Homo sapiens: one gene and its partner. The protein of the gene in region 1 purifies or fractionates together with the protein of each later gene. This does not show direct contact. Each region holds a gene or a part of one and is shown on either strand. Other genes may lie near its edges.

The links. Proteins that work in one complex are often made in the same cells at the same time.
Region 2: the proteins of TACC2 (region 1) and LARP1 fractionate together in Homo sapiens (co-fractionation; one large-scale study listed by BioGRID). This does not show direct contact.

What each region holds. Positions count from the first base shown.
Region 1 is NC_000010.11:122,209,033-122,212,683, forward strand, and holds part of TACC2 (transforming acidic coiled-coil-containing protein 2), read left to right. Parts: intron 1-841; exon of another isoform or gene 842-937; intron 938-1,364; coding exon 1,365-2,676; intron 2,677-3,651. UniProt on the Homo sapiens protein: Plays a role in the microtubule-dependent coupling of the nucleus and the centrosome. Involved in the processes that regulate centrosome-mediated interkinetic nuclear migration (INM) of neural progenitors.
Region 2 is NC_000005.10:154,803,749-154,807,399, forward strand, and holds part of LARP1 (la-related protein 1), read left to right. Parts: intron 1-452; coding exon 453-559; intron 560-2,132; coding exon 2,133-2,284; intron 2,285-3,651. UniProt on the Homo sapiens protein: RNA-binding protein that regulates the translation of specific target mRNA species downstream of the mTORC1 complex, in function of growth signals and nutrient availability.

The DNA of each region.
Region 1 (3,651 bases):
GGCACCTTTGAGCATCATTTGGCCAACATTTGCAGCATCTGCAGCATGTTTGGGAAATAGGAGCAACCTCCTTGACTGGCAGGGGCTGATGAGGTAGAAAAGCTGAGAGGAGGCAGCTGGGAGAGCAGTGAGACTAGGCAAGAGGCAGGGCCAAGGATAGGCAGGCAGGACTGAAGGAGAGGTTACAGGTGATGGCTGGAGCGGCAGGTGGCAGACAGCAAGTGCTACTACAGGTGCCGGGGGCCTCCGTGTACAGGCTCCCCTGATCTTCACAGTGGCTCTGAGGAGTCAAGAACAGGCTTGCTGGTGGCCGTGGCTAGTATGAATATTTATGGAAGCCTCCGTATGCCTTCCTGCAGGATTTCTCTGTCTTCCTGTCCCACTCTTGACCCTTGCTTTAGCCACACTGGCCTCCTCGCTGTTTCTGTAACGCACCAGGTGCTCCTGCCGCAGAGCCTTTACTCGCACTATTCCTTCTACCCAGGATGCTTCCTCCCCAGGAGTCCTCCTGTTTCATGCACTTACCTTGATTCTGGCCTTTGCTTAGATGTCTCCTCAGAAGATCTTGCCTGACTACCTTATTTTAAAAGTGAAACTCTCCTATCCCGGCTTTATTTTTCTCCTTAGCATGTATCACCCTCTGAAATTCTGTACATTGTTTGTTTGTTTTTGAGACAGAGTCTCACTCACTCTGTCACCCAGGCTAGAGTACAGTGGCGCAATCTCGGCTCTCTGCAACCTCTGGCTCCCAGGCTCAAGCGATTCTCCTGCCTCAGGCTCCGGAATAGCTGGGATTACAGGCGCTCACCACCATGCCTGGCTAATTTTTGTGTTTTTTTAGTAGAGACTGGGTTTCACCATGATGACCAGGCTGGTCTCAAACTCCTGACCTCAAGTGATCTGCCTGCCTCGGCCTCCCAAAGTGCTGGGATTACAGGTGTGAGACACCATGCCCGGCCCTGGTGGTTTATTCGCTATCTTCCCCTGAAGAATGTGACTTCCAGGAAGGGAAAGGTTTTGTCTATTTCTGTTCCTTGTTGAATCTCTAGTACCTAGAACCATGTCTGGTCCTGATTAGGCACTTGGTGAATGTTTTTGAATGAATACTCTGAGCTGTTCTTTAATCGGTCCTCATGATCCTCATTGTACAGATGAGGGAACTCTGGGCGAACCTGGCCTGGGTCTTGAGCTAATTACGGGTAGGTCAGGTTCTGTACCCAAGTAGTACACACAGTGATGGGCGGGGTGGCCTGGGGCCGTGGTTTGTCAACCCCTACGCTGGAGGGTGATGTTTTGGTACAAGAGGAGAGGTGCCCCAATGCGTCCTGTGTCTGTAATTGATGGCGTTGTCTGTGTTTCCCCAGGATGTGGTTCTGAGACAGTCCCTGTCCCTGATGGCCCACGGAGCGACTCGGTGGAAGGAAGTCCCTTCCGTCCCCCGTCACACTCCTTCTCTGCCGTCTTCGATGAAGACAAGCCGATAGCCAGCAGTGGGACTTACAACTTGGACTTTGACAACATTGAGCTTGTGGATACCTTTCAGACCTTGGAGCCTCGTGCCTCAGACGCTAAGAATCAGGAGGGCAAAGTGAACACACGGAGGAAGTCCACGGATTCCGTCCCCATCTCTAAGTCTACACTGTCCCGGTCGCTCAGCCTGCAAGCCAGTGACTTTGATGGTGCTTCTTCCTCAGGCAATCCCGAGGCCGTGGCCCTTGCCCCAGATGCATATAGCACGGGTTCCAGCAGTGCTTCTAGTACCCTTAAGCGAACTAAAAAACCGAGGCCGCCTTCCTTAAAAAAGAAACAGACCACCAAGAAACCCACAGAGACCCCCCCAGTGAAGGAGACGCAACAGGAGCCAGATGAAGAGAGCCTTGTCCCCAGTGGGGAGAATCTAGCATCTGAGACGAAAACGGAATCTGCCAAGACGGAAGGTCCTAGCCCAGCCTTATTGGAGGAGACGCCCCTTGAGCCCGCTGTGGGGCCCAAAGCTGCCTGCCCTCTGGACTCAGAGAGTGCAGAAGGGGTTGTCCCCCCGGCTTCTGGAGGTGGCAGAGTGCAGAACTCACCCCCTGTCGGGAGGAAAACGCTGCCTCTTACCACGGCCCCGGAGGCAGGGGAGGTAACCCCATCGGATAGCGGGGGGCAAGAGGACTCTCCAGCCAAAGGGCTCTCCGTAAGGCTGGAGTTTGACTATTCTGAGGACAAGAGTAGTTGGGACAACCAGCAGGAAAACCCCCCTCCTACCAAAAAGATAGGCAAAAAGCCAGTTGCCAAAATGCCCCTGAGGAGGCCAAAGATGAAAAAGACACCCGAGAAACTTGACAACACTCCTGCCTCACCTCCCAGATCCCCTGCTGAACCCAATGACATCCCCATTGCTAAAGGTACTTACACCTTTGATATTGACAAGTGGGATGACCCCAATTTTAACCCTTTTTCTTCCACCTCAAAAATGCAGGAGTCTCCCAAACTGCCCCAACAATCATACAACTTTGACCCAGACACCTGTGATGAGTCCGTTGACCCCTTTAAGACATCCTCTAAGACCCCCAGCTCACCTTCTAAATCCCCAGCCTCCTTTGAGATCCCAGCCAGTGCTATGGAAGCCAATGGAGTGGACGGGGATGGGCTAAACAAGCCCGCCAAGAAGAAGAAGACGCCCCTAAAGACGTAAGTTCAGGGGTGGAGGTGGTAAGGATCAGAGGCGGGGGTGCGCATTGGCTGTGACCCTTGGTCATGTGCCTGGATAACCTTCGACTGCCCTAACCTTGCCCCTGGGTGCTGTGATGATGCCACGCTTACGGCCGTTGCACCAAGCAGACAATGTACGTGTTTTCCTTCCTCTCTGCGGTCACAGTGGTGGCATTTTCCCATCCACATACCCCTTTGTGTCCTTGATCTTTTGCTTTAATAAATCAATGGGCTGGAGCTTTACTTGTAGCCAAAGACCTAATGTTCAACTCCAGAGCAATCTGGGAGATCCCATGGAAGGGGAAAGGTCCTTAGAGATCTGGTTCATCTCCCTGTTGGTGACTGATTGCTTTTTGGAGAAGCTGGGAGATACACCCTTTAAAATATTAAAATGTATAGTACTTGTTTCTGCCTATTAATGAGACATTAGCCCAACCTACAAACATAGTAGATTCCAGGAGGCTCAGGAATGAGAGATGTGGCCTGGGCCCCTCCCTGCTGCACTCCAACCAGCCCGTAAGAAACACCCTTCTTTGTCTCCTTCCTTCTCTCCAGTCATCTTTTGTAGACAAAGTCCCTGCAAGTTCTGAAGAGATAAATGGAACCTGAAAGTGGGGAGCAAATCCCCACAATCCCCAGGAAGCCATTGGTCCTTGGCTCTATGGTCCCCAGACACTTGACAAGGCCAAGTACATCGTGCTTAAATATCAAACACCCATGCCTCCAGAATCCACCCCAGGACCCGGCTCTAATGTGGATGGCTGCTGGTCCTTTATTCTTTGGCCCCTGTGGTTAATATCTTGGCGATTTCCTTACTCTTACGGGAAGTATTGTCAGTAATTTAACAAGGCTGAGGAGATCAGTCTCCCAGGGGCAGCAGAACAGACCACAGCGCTGGCCCCTCTGGGTCTGCCTGGCACGAAAGAGACAGAACGACATGTTTACCTCCCATTC
Region 2 (3,651 bases), on another chromosome or scaffold:
AGGCATTCCTGTCGGGCTGCTCAGAGTCTTGGGTCTACTTCATTGCATTCCAGTGCTTTGCTTCTCTCCCTTGCCTTGTCTGAGCTAAGGAAGTGCTAAATCCTTCACCTGCTCTGTGTTCTGAGGCTGGTGGGCTTACCTAGGATTAGGTAGCCACATCTGCAAAATATACTGGGTGTGGGAGTGGTAACCCCATGTTGAAAGGCCTAAGGAGGATTGACCAGGTATGAGTCCTTGGGCAAATCACTGCATTCCCAAACCTTGATTTCTTCACCTGTTTGAAATAGGCATACCAGTTCCTAGCTCACCACTGTGAACTTTATACGAGAATGAATATGAAAATGCTGTTGTAAAATGTGAGAGATCATGCCCATCTTAGTCCTACAAGTGCTTGATGCTCCTCAGAGTTGTAGGAGTACAAACAGTAACAAACCCTGGGCTAACCTTTGCAGATGCCTCGAAAAAGAAAGACAAGACACAGTTCAAACCCACCCTTGGAGAGCCATGTGGGCTGGGTGATGGATTCCCGTGAGCACAGGCCCCGTACTGCTTCCATCAGGTACCTGGGGCAGTGGGGGAAGAGTGATCAGGCTGCCTATGGGATGGGTGGGCGAGCCATGAAATTGACTGGACCAAGAAGATTGGTCTGAAAATTAAAGGGACCCTCATCTAAGAGGTTTTCAAAAAACCAGTGGTGTGGAAAGCTCAGCCCAGGACCTGGGAATGACGGGTAGGCTTTTTTCCTAAAGAAGTGGTGTGGCAGTCACGTGAGACCAGATTTTCATACATGCAGAGAGAAAATCTCTGAATTGGTTTCCAAGCCTGGCTATCTACTTTCTGTCTGAGGAAGAATAGCCAGGTAGTTGAATAAACAGATTTCTGGCAGTCTCTCTGAGCCTACTATGTCTTGGGAGGCTACTTGAAAAGTTTTAAAAATTAAAAAAATACATATTTATTGGCCCCAACCTGTATCTGCTGACCCTGCTTCTTGGGGTAGGGCCCACACTCTTTTTTATTTATTTCAGTAAGATGGCCCCAGTGTGTGTTTCCTGTTTCCCAAAGCAAGCTTTGAGAGCCACCTACCTATGACCAATGCTCTCTACTCCCTGCAGAGATGGCACAGACTGCAAATAGGCATGCTTTTGAAGAAAATATACAATTGATCTTTGAACAACGAAGGGCGTGGGGTGCCCAGCTGCACACAGTTGAAAATCCGTGTATAACTTTTGACTCTCCAAAAGCCTACTGTTAACCAGAAGCCTTACCAATAACATATAGTCAATTAGCACATGTTTTGCATATTATATGTATTACATACTGTATTCTTACAATAAGCTAAATAAAAAATATTACTAAGAAAATCACAAAGAAGGGAACAACAAACACTGGGGCCTACTTGGTGGGGAGAGGGAGGAGAGTGAGGTACAGTTTACCTACTTAACAAACCTGTACACATACCTCTGAACCTAAAATAAAAGTTAAAATCATAAGAGAAAATATTTACTGTTCAGTAAGTGGAAGTAGAATCATCATAAAGGTCTTCATCGTCGTGGTCTTCATGTTTAGCAGGCTGAGAAGGAGGGGTTGGTCTTGCTCTCTCGAGTGGCAAAGGGGAATCATCATAAAGGTCCTCATCCTCATGGTCTTCACATTGAGCAGGCTGAGAAGGAGGGGTTGGTCTTGCTGTCTCAAGAGTGGCAAAGGTGGAAGAAATCTGCGTATAAGTGGACCCACGCGTGGATCCATGCATTTCAAACCCATGTTGTTCAAGGGTTCACTGTAGATGGATTGACCCATGATGGCTCATTAAAAGGTTAAATGCTTAAAGTTAATAAATGGTTAAAAGCTCAAGTTTTATCATTGGACACGTTTCTGCCATTAAATAGTCTTATGACCCTGGATGAGTCTCCTAATCTCTGTAAGCCTCAGTATCCTCTGTAAAACTCTCTGAGAGTTGATGCAGAGTTAATCAGACCCATGGATATAAGTTAAAGGTCCGTAACTGGGCCTCCTTGTTTGATACCCTGTGAGAGGATGGATCTTGGCTGACAGAACGGATCAGAGGGACCCCTCCTGACATGGTGGGGCTGCTGTGGGGAACCTGGTGACAGTATTTTTTGTGGTTTCTGTAGCTCCAGCCCCTCAGAAGGGACGCCTACAGTTGGCAGCTATGGCTGTACCCCTCAGTCATTGCCCAAGTTCCAGCATCCTTCCCATGAACTGCTCAAGGAAAATGGCTTCACACAACACGTCTACCATAAGTATCGTAGGCGCTGCCTTAATGGTAAGAAGTGTGGGGGGCAGGAGATGAGCCTCTGGGCCCGTTATTTAGACCCAGAGTATAAGAGTTGGGGGATACGGGGATAGGTGACTCTTTTCTCTGACTTCAGAGCAAAAAAAAGACATGACATTATAGCAAGAAAGACTGAAGTTAGACTCGGGCCAGGTAGTTTTAAACTGTAGGAAGCTAGGGGGATATGGCACTCACAACGTTCGTGTTCTTTGATCTTCCTCTATTGATTATTAAAGCTGTCAATTAAGTATTTCCATATCTCTGGCAAGATTACTGACTCAGCCATTGTCAGGTCTAGTCCACTGTCCATCACAAAAGGGTATGTAAGAGGTGACATATGCTCTCTAGAACAAAGGTTGCCAAACTGGCCTGTGAGTCAAATCCAGCCAGTATTCTGTTTTCGTATGGCTTTGGAGCTAAGGACAGTTTTTACATTTTTAAGGGGTTGTAAGAAAAAAAGATTTGTGACAGAGACTATATGTCTTCTGTAAAGCCTGAAATATTTGTTCTCTGTCCCTTTACAAAAGTAGTTTGCTGATCCCCTCTCTAGATGATAGTGTAAGGAACGAGCCTGTCTAGATGCTCTTGTCTGTCCCTGCTCTTTTAGTATTCTGATAGGTTGGCTGTAAAGACGCGCAAAACCAATCTAGTCACCTGTAGTTATTAACTCATTCATCCTCTTTCATTCAACAAAACGTGGTTGCTAAATTCTTGATTCATCCACTTCACTTCTCTCTTTCTTACTCTATGTGTAATAACAGCTTTATTGGGATATAATCTACATATGATGGAACATACCTAAAGAATACAATGTAATAGCTCTAAGTGTACTCATATAGTTGTGTGCCCATCACCAGAATCAATTTTAGAACATTTTCATTACCCCCAAAATGCTATGCCCCTTACCAGTCATACTCATTATACATGCAAACTACTCCCCACCCCCAGAATCCTCCCAGCCCTATGAAACTACTAACCTACTTTCTGCCTCTAAGGATTTTGCCTATTCTGGACATTTCACATAAATTATACTGTATGTGGTCCTTTGTTACTGGCCTCTTCCCCTTAGTATATTTGGTATACTAACAAATACACAGCAAGGTTCATGTCATAGCATGCATCAGTACTTTATTCTTTTTATTGCCAAATCATATTCCATCGTATGGATGTATCACATTTTGTGTATCCATTCATCAGTTGATTGGCATTTGGGTTGTTTCTACTTTTTGTCTATTGTGAATGATGCTACTGGGCATATTCACATACAGGTTTCCTGTAGACGTAGTTTCTCCTTTATTTTGGTTAGAAGAGTAGTATTGCTGGGTCATGGGGTAACCATGTTTAACCCTTTGACAAAA